Homo sapiens: one gene and its partner. The protein of the gene in region 1 purifies or fractionates together with the protein of each later gene. This does not show direct contact. Each region holds a gene or a part of one and is shown in the gene's direction. Other genes may lie near its edges.

Region 1 (4,026 bases):
AATAACAATAATGAAAATACCATTATATTTGTTGGTTATAGCTAAAATGGTGTTCAAGAAAAAATTCATAGAATTACATAAAATATTTAGAATCATAGAGTTATATTAATAGATATGAAGGGATGAAAGTGAGTTAAGCACCCAATTCAAGAAATTAGAAAAAAGAAAGAAACTGAAAGAAAGCAAAAGGAAAGAAGATTCAAATGGAAATAATTTTAAAAACAGAAAAATGGAAGAACTCATAAATTCTTAAGAGTTGGTTGCTTGGATGAAAAATAGCTGTTGATTAAAGAAGCTCATTAGCTAACCTATGTAAGTGGGAAAAGAGCAGGAACAAGCATCCAGATGCAGCGGAATCAAGAATCACAAGGGTTTTTTGTTGTTTTTGCTCAACTAAGTGCAAAAGAAATGGAAAATTTGGATGGCATATAAATGTAATTTACTAAAACTGATTCCCATGGAGATTGTCTAAATAGACTAATGACCATGGGGTGAAAAGTAATAGGAAAAGTTCTCAGAGATACAGTCCCTCAGAAACACCAGGCTCAGATTGATAGGGAATGTCCTCAAACCTTTAAAAAACATATATTTCCATTATTGTTTAAATTGTTACAAAGCACAGAGAGAGAAAGGGGCCAGGTTATTTTTATGAAACAAGTATAATATTGACACTGACACCTGACAGTAAACACACAGAAAGAGAGAACTGCAGACTCTAATGTTCTCCACCTGTGAATATTGATGCAAAAAATTTTACATAGAAGATCAGGAAACAAAATCTAGCAGCATATTGAAAGACCAATATACCATAGACCAACTGAAGTTTAGTAGAAGTATAGGGATAGTTCAATATTGGGATATCTATTAATATAATTTTATATATATGTGAAATCTAAAATACATGAAACTTGTGCCATCCTCTGTATAGATGTTGAAGAGACATCTGTTAACATTCAACATCTATTCTTGATTCTTTTAAAATGAACCCTCTTAAGAAAAAAATGGATAATTTCCTACACCATTGAAATGTATTTATTTCAACTCCAAACAGCATCTTGATTAAAGAAAAAAACTCTAATAGCATTCCTGTTAAAGTTAGGAACAAGACAAGGACAAGACTATCATAATTTAACTGTGTTTGGAGATACCAGCCAACAGAATTAGAAGTAGAAAATAGAAATATAGCAAAATAGAAGGATAAAAATGGAAAGGAGGGGGTAAATTATTACTTGCTGATGATATTATTTTATAACTGGTAATCCAAGAGAATAAACTAAGCAGCATTAAGCATTAAGATAATTCTGGAAGGTAGATAGGTACAAAATTAATGTGCAGAACTTAGTAGTGTTCCTATATAGAAATACATGTTTATTAAAAGATATAATGAAAAAAATACACTGTGTAAGAGCAACAAAAAGAAAAAATATAGAAATAAATCTAACAGGAAGAATATAAGGCATATAAAAGGGCATTCCTTTCTTTTTTTTTTTTTTTTGAGATGGAGTCTCGCTCCGTTGCCCACGCTGGAGTGCAGTGGCATGATCTCGGCTCACTGCAACCTCTGCCTCCCATGTTCAAGCGATTCTTCTGCCTCAGCCTCCCGAGTAGCTGGGATTACAGGCACCCACCACCACGCCTGGCTGATTTTTTGTATTTTTAGTAGAGACGGGGTTTCACTGTATTAGCCAGGATGGTCTCGATCTCCTGACCTCATGATGCGTCCGCCCCAGCCTTCCAAAGTGCTGGGATTACAGGCGTGAGCCACTGCGCCTGGCCTAAAGGGGTATTTCATTTCATCTAAATTATCAGATATATTGGCGTGAAGTTGTTCGTAACATTCCCATATCCTTTTTTTTGAACAGCTTTATTGAGATGAAATTCACATGTCATAAAATCCACCCATTTTAAGTGTATAATTAATTGGCTTTTAGTATATTCCGGGTTGTGTGACCATCACCATGATCTAATTTTAGAACATTTTCATCACCCACAAACGAAACCTTACACCCATGAGTCACTTTCCATTTACTTCTCCCCTTGTCAAAAATCAATTGACCATAGATGTATGGATTTCTGGACTCTCAGTTCTGTTCCCTTCCTGTCTGTATCTGTCCTTATGCCAGAACCACACTGTCTTGGTTACTATAGTTTTGTATATAGTAGTCCGCCTTCTCAGTGATTTTGCCTTCTTTGGTTTCAGTTACCCCTGGTCAACTGAGGTTCAAAAACCTTAAGATACTTTGAGGGAGAGAGCGACCACATTCACATACCTTATTACAATATATTGTTATAATTTTTCTATTTTATTATTATTGTTAATCTTTTACTGTACATAATTTATAAAGTCAGCTTTATCATAGGTATGTTTAGGAAAAAAACAGTATATTTAGGATTTGGTAGTATCCATTGTTTCAGGCATCCGCTGGGGGACTCGGTATGTATCCCCCATGGATAAGATAGATTACTGTACTTTTGAAATAAGGACGAGTAAGTCCTCTGACTTTGTTGTTTTTAAGATGATTTTTGTCTCTTCTGGGTCTCTTGCATTCCCGTATGAAATTTAGGATCATCATATCCGTGTCTGCAAAAAAAGACAAAAAAAAAAAAACCAAAAAAACCAACCAGTTGGGATTTTGATAGGCATCTACAAATCTTTCCTTTCCTTTTTTCCTCCTCCTTTTTCTCCTCCTCTCCCCTTTCCTCCCTCTTCTTCCTTCTCCTCCCCTCCTCCTCCTCCTCCCCTCTCCTCTTTCCTTTTATCCCCTCTCCCCTCCTCTCCCCTCTCCTCTTTCCCCTCTCCTCTTTCTCCTCTCCTCTTTCCCGTCTCCCCTTTCCTTTCCTTCTTTCCTTTCTGTGACAAGGACTCAGTCTGTTGCCTAGGGAAGTATTGCCATTTTAACAATATTGTCTTATGGCCAATGAACATGGGCTGGTTTTCCTTATTTAGATCTTTAGTTTCTTTCCAAGTTTTGTAATTTTTAGTGTGCCTACACTTTTTATTAAATTTTTCCTAATTATTTCATTTTTGATGCTATTGTAGATGGAATTTTCTTTATTTCATATTTGGATTGTTCATTGCTAGTGTATAGAAGTATTTTTGTGTATTGATCGTGTACCTGCAATCTTGCTGAATTCATTTATTAGTTCTAATAGTTTCTTAGTGGATTTCTTAGGATTTTCTCTATATAAGATCATGTCATCTTACAAATAGAAATAGTATTCCTTCTACTCCAATCTGGATACCTTTTATTTCTTTTTCTTTCATAATTACTCTGACTAAAACTTTTGGTACAATGTCAAATAGAAGAGGTGAGAACAGACACCCTTTCCTTGTTCCTGATCTTAGGGGTAAAGCGTTCAGTCTTTCACCATTAAGTATGATATTAGCTGTGAGTTTTTCATAGATTCTCTTTATCAGATTGAGAAAGTTTTCTTCTATTCCTAGTTTTTTGAGTGTTTTTAACTCATGAAAGGGTGTTGGAGTGTGTCAAATGTTTTTCTTCTGTCTGTTTAGATAATCATGTGGCTTTTTTTTAAACTTAAGTATTCTATTGCGACATATCACATTATATGATTTTTCAGATGTTAAACCATGCTTACATTCCTAGGATAAATCTTATTTGGTCATAGTATATAATTTTATATTTTGCTGGATTTGGTTTGCTGATATTTTATTGAGGAATTTTGCATCTGTATTCATAAGGGATATTGGTCTATAGTTTTTGTTGTGACATTTTATCTAGTTTTGATGTCAGAGTAATGCCTCATAGAATGAGTTGAGAAGTGTCTCCTCTTTTTTTTGGAAGTGTTTGTGAAGGATTTGTATGAATTCCTCTTGAAATGTTTGCTGGAATTCACCAGTGAAGCCATTGAGCCTGGTGTTTTCTTTGTGGGATGTTTTAAAATTACAGATTCAATCTCTTTATTTATTATAGGCCTATTCAGATTTTCAGTTTTTTCTTGAGTTATTGTGCATAGTTTGTGTCTTTCTAGGAATTTTTCAATTTTATATAAGTTATCCAATTT
Region 2 (4,234 bases), on another chromosome or scaffold:
GTAATGCCCTGGCCTGCCCTGGGCTGTTGTAAGTTCTTTTGTCTATGTTCTTGCCAAGCACCTGTTTGACCCTCTGAGCAGTGAAGCAATAGCTGTTTTCCCCTCAACCTCTCTTACCCTTATTTCTCTCATTTGCAAAATGGGAATGATGGTAGCTATGTTGGCCTTACCCATGAGTGTCTTCCCAGTCCCACCTTGGGCATGTTGTGGGCAGAAGTAGTGCTGCCCTAGTGCAGCGGTTCTCAAAGTGTGATCTGGAGAGCCCCTCGGGGATCTGAGACAACCTTCTTTTCTAACTACATACCTGTGTGAGGCTGGGTTTTCTTCATATAGTTGAATCAACACATTACAACAGCTTGAACACAGAAACAGATATGAGAATACAGCTGTTTTCTATTAAGCCAGATATTAAAGCGTTTGCAAAAATATAAAATAATGCCACTGTTCTCACTATTTGTTTTAGATAATTAAAAAATATAATGTCAACATGTAATAGGTTATTATTTTATGAATTAATAAACATTTAAAACATTCTCAGTTTTAATTTGTTTTTTGTTGTTGTTGTTGTTGTTGTTTTTTAGAGACAGGGCCTCACTCTGTTGCCCAGGCCGGAATGCAGTGGCTATTCACAGGTACAATCCCACTAGTGATCAGCAGCGGCTCAGTTTTAATTTCTAATACAATAATTATCAATACATATAATCCACACAAACAAAAGCTCTTGGAAATCCTCAATAATTTTCAAGAATGTAGAGGTACTGAGACCCAAAGTTTGAGAACCCCTCGAGGAAAGAATAGAGTTCCAGATCTAGATTTTTCAGGTACCTCATGGTCTAAGCCCTCTCCTGTGCCTCATTTTAACTCTAATACAATAATACTCATTCTTGTTGCCATGAGTGGCTCTTGGTTTCTTCCTTTTCCTAATGTTTAGATCTTGCTTTATGTGTGTATATAGTGATGGTCTTTGGAAGGATACACAATTAACTGGTACAGCGGTTGAGGGGAGTTCGGAAACTGGGAGAAAGTGGCACCATAAACCTTTCTGCTCTGTTTGATTTTTAAAATACAGTACATCGTGCATGTAGTGCCTGAATTAATAATGAACAATTAAAAGTAAAATTACATTTTTAATGCATAGGAATGCATGAGAAACTCAAGTCTGCTCAAGTAAAGTGGTGTTAACCGACAATGACAAACAATAAGAAGAAAGTTTTCCTTGTCCGCCTTCACCAGGCTCACAAACACTTAGCTCGCGCTCCCTCTGGCTCTTCTCCCGCTCGCTGGGGTTAAGCCACTCTCTTCCTCAGCCCTGCCCCTCGTCCCCGCCCCCTTCAACAACTTCAGCCACGCCCCTCACTGCCTCGCCCCGCCCCGCGGCGACGTCACCTCCGGCCGACCAGCTTCCCCAACTCCCTCTGGCTCCCGCCTTCGCCCGCTTCCGGTCGTCGTCGTCGCCGCTGCTGCCGCTGCTGTTGCTCCTGAGGCTGCTGGCTGAGGCCGGAGGATCGAGCGGCGGCGGCGGCGGCGGCTGAGAGGGCGGCGGCGGGAGCGGAGCGGGACGAGGGAACGGGAGGAAGCGAGCGAGGAGCGCGCAGAGCGCGCTTTTCCGTCCGCCTGAGGAGCCGAAGCAGCCCCGGCCCCGCCGCCGCCGCCTGCCCGCCGGACAAAGCCGAGAGCCCGCGCCCACAGCCATGTCCTCGTCAGCCGGCAGCGGCCACCAGCCCAGCCAGAGCCGCGCCATCCCCACCCGCACCGTGGCCATCAGCGACGCCGCGCAGCTACCTCATGACTATTGCACCACGCCCGGGGGGACGCTCTTCTCCACCACACCGGGAGGTGAGCGCCGGCCAGCCGTCCGCCGCGCCCGGTGTCCCGCCGCGGTCCTCTAACTCCTCGGCGCCTCGGTGCCCGGCCGCTTCGCCCCCGCCCCCAGCTCCACCGAAGCCCCGGGGACGCTGCCCTTGGGCCCGCCCGAGCGTTCGGGACCCTTTACTTCGTGTTCGCTCTTGCCCGCAGCTCGAGTCGGCGCGCGCCCCACTCGGGAATGTGGCTGTCCTGTCGCGAAAAAGAGCTCTTGTTTCCGCTTCGTGGCAGGCTTACGCATTCGACCCAGTTCTCTCTCTCCTCTCTGCCTCCTTCCCGGGCGGATTTGGCTCCACTTGGCCTTGCATTACAGTCTGCATTGCCTGTCGTAGATTGTGCAAATTAATGCTTGATTTTGGAGCTGGCTCCGGGGCTTTTTAAAAAAGAACTTTGGGAGAGGAATTCGGCCCTGGCATCCTGCGATGGCTTGTTTTTGCTGCTTTTAGAACACCGGGAGGAGGCTGGAATGCGGAGTCTGGAAGCCTCGCCCAGCGTTATCCCGCTTTGACAGCATTGTTTACTTTGCTGGACGAGGCCCCACGGGTGAGGGGAGTCCCCAGGCCGGGAGGAGAGCGTGATAAAATAAAGCTCAAGTAATAGCCAAGGGAAAGTAGGTGGGGGTGGTAGGGTGCTGACAGCCTTAAGGTAGGGTGTCTTTCGGCAGCGACGCCTTTGGAAATGGATTGAAGGACCTTTGTCAAGGACACCCCAGTTGGGTGGGGTGGTTGCTTGATCCTGTGGAAGGGGCTAGAGAGAGGCAATCCAGAGAGAGGGTGGTTCCCTGGCATTGCTTTTCAAAGCATGACCAGGAACTGTTTACAAATAAGTAATACTGGGGTAGAGGTGAAGCTTGGTCACGGGAAGAGAGCTCAAAGGTTGTCTGTGCCCTAACTGGGCTGTCCTCCAGAGGGAGGAGCCTGGAAAGCGATTTTGAGGAGCCTTATTGAAGGGAACGGGGCCTCCTTTTTAACTTCAGAACTTTGTCTTCTTTTGGTGCTGGGGTGGCCTCTTGCTAGAGGGTGGGGACTTCGCAGCTCCTGCGGTCTAGAGGATTGCTAGCCTTGTTCCTGTGGGCAGGGCTCAGGAGCTGTACTACAACCAATCCGATGCAGTTAGGCCTGGACCATCCTTAAATCAGTTGCACAATAGCAAGGCCTGTGGAGTAAGGAGACCTTCTTGCCAACACCAAGGGATAAAATCTAGGAGGGAGCTTTACAGAGAAATTCAGCCAGGCCGCTCTGGGGGCTGGGCGGGCTGCCTTGAAAGGCTTTTTAAATGACCCAGGCAGAAGTTCAGTAATATATATGGAGAGCTGGGTTTAAGGAAATGTTAACTTTGCAGAATAGTGGAGTTCTTAGGTGGCTTAACTCATGGAAGAAATCTCCCCCCGATATGATCAGTTCAAGACCAACTCGTGTTTGAGCATGGTACAGGGTCTCACTCTGTCGCCCAGGCTGGAGTACAGTGGCACGACCTCGGCTCACTGCACTCTCTACTTCCTGGGCTCAAGCGATCCTCCCACCTCAGCCTCCTGAGTAGCTGGACCACAGGCACGTGCCACCACGCCTGGCTAATTTTTTTGTATTTTGGTAGAGTCTGGGTTTCTCCATGTTGCCCAGGCTCGTCCTGGGCTCAAGTTATTCGCCCCGTCAGCCTCCCAAAGTGCTGGGATTACAGGCGTGAGCCACTGCACCCGGCCAAGATCTTGCTTTTTAATCCTGAAAAATTTTGGCAGACCAGAATCTGCTCCATATAAGAGTTGTCTTGAACTTGAACTGATAGCTTTTAAGAAATAGATGCTGTTTTCCGAGGTGATGGAAAGGGATTTATAACTTCTTCCAGAATTCTTTGTGGTATTGCTCAGTAAATGCCTGTGCTTCCAGAAGTTCAGAACACGTCATAGTGACAACTGCACTCAGCTATAATGTATTTGGAAAGGGAACTAAACTTTCAGCTATATATTAATCCCCTGAGGGAAGAGCCACCTAGACACGTTTTTGGCTTATGTCAAATAGTCAAGCTACCATACTTTTAAAAATAAGGGCATAGTCTTTAAGCGTTGCTTCAAAGATAGAAGCCTGTCTCATAGCCTGGATTAGTTCTTAAAGTGCTTGCAAAGAGTCTGCCAGAAATACTAATTCATTACCCCTCCTCCTAACAACACTCAATCACTGTTTTCTCAAATATCACTTAACTTCCCCCGACATTGTTTCTACACACAGTTTCTTGTTTTGGATTTAAATACTTGTGATCTTGGCTCTTCTTTACTGTTGAGCTTGTATTTATTGGGAGAGCCCATCATAATCTTTGGATTTATTTGTTTATTTATTTATTTATTTTTGGAGACGGAGTTTCGCTCTGTAGCCTAGGC

The links.
Region 2: the proteins of ANGEL1 (region 1) and EIF4EBP2 purify together in Homo sapiens (affinity purification with mass spectrometry, with the first as the bait; one large-scale study listed by BioGRID). This does not show direct contact.

What each region holds. Positions count from the first base shown.
Region 1 is NC_000014.9:76,792,140-76,796,165, reverse strand, and holds part of ANGEL1 (protein angel homolog 1), read left to right. Parts: intron 1-4,026.
Region 2 is NC_000010.11:70,402,711-70,406,944, forward strand, and holds the start of EIF4EBP2 (eukaryotic translation initiation factor 4E-binding protein 2), read left to right. Parts: upstream 1-1,434; 5' UTR 1,435-1,691; coding exon 1,692-1,836; intron 1,837-4,234.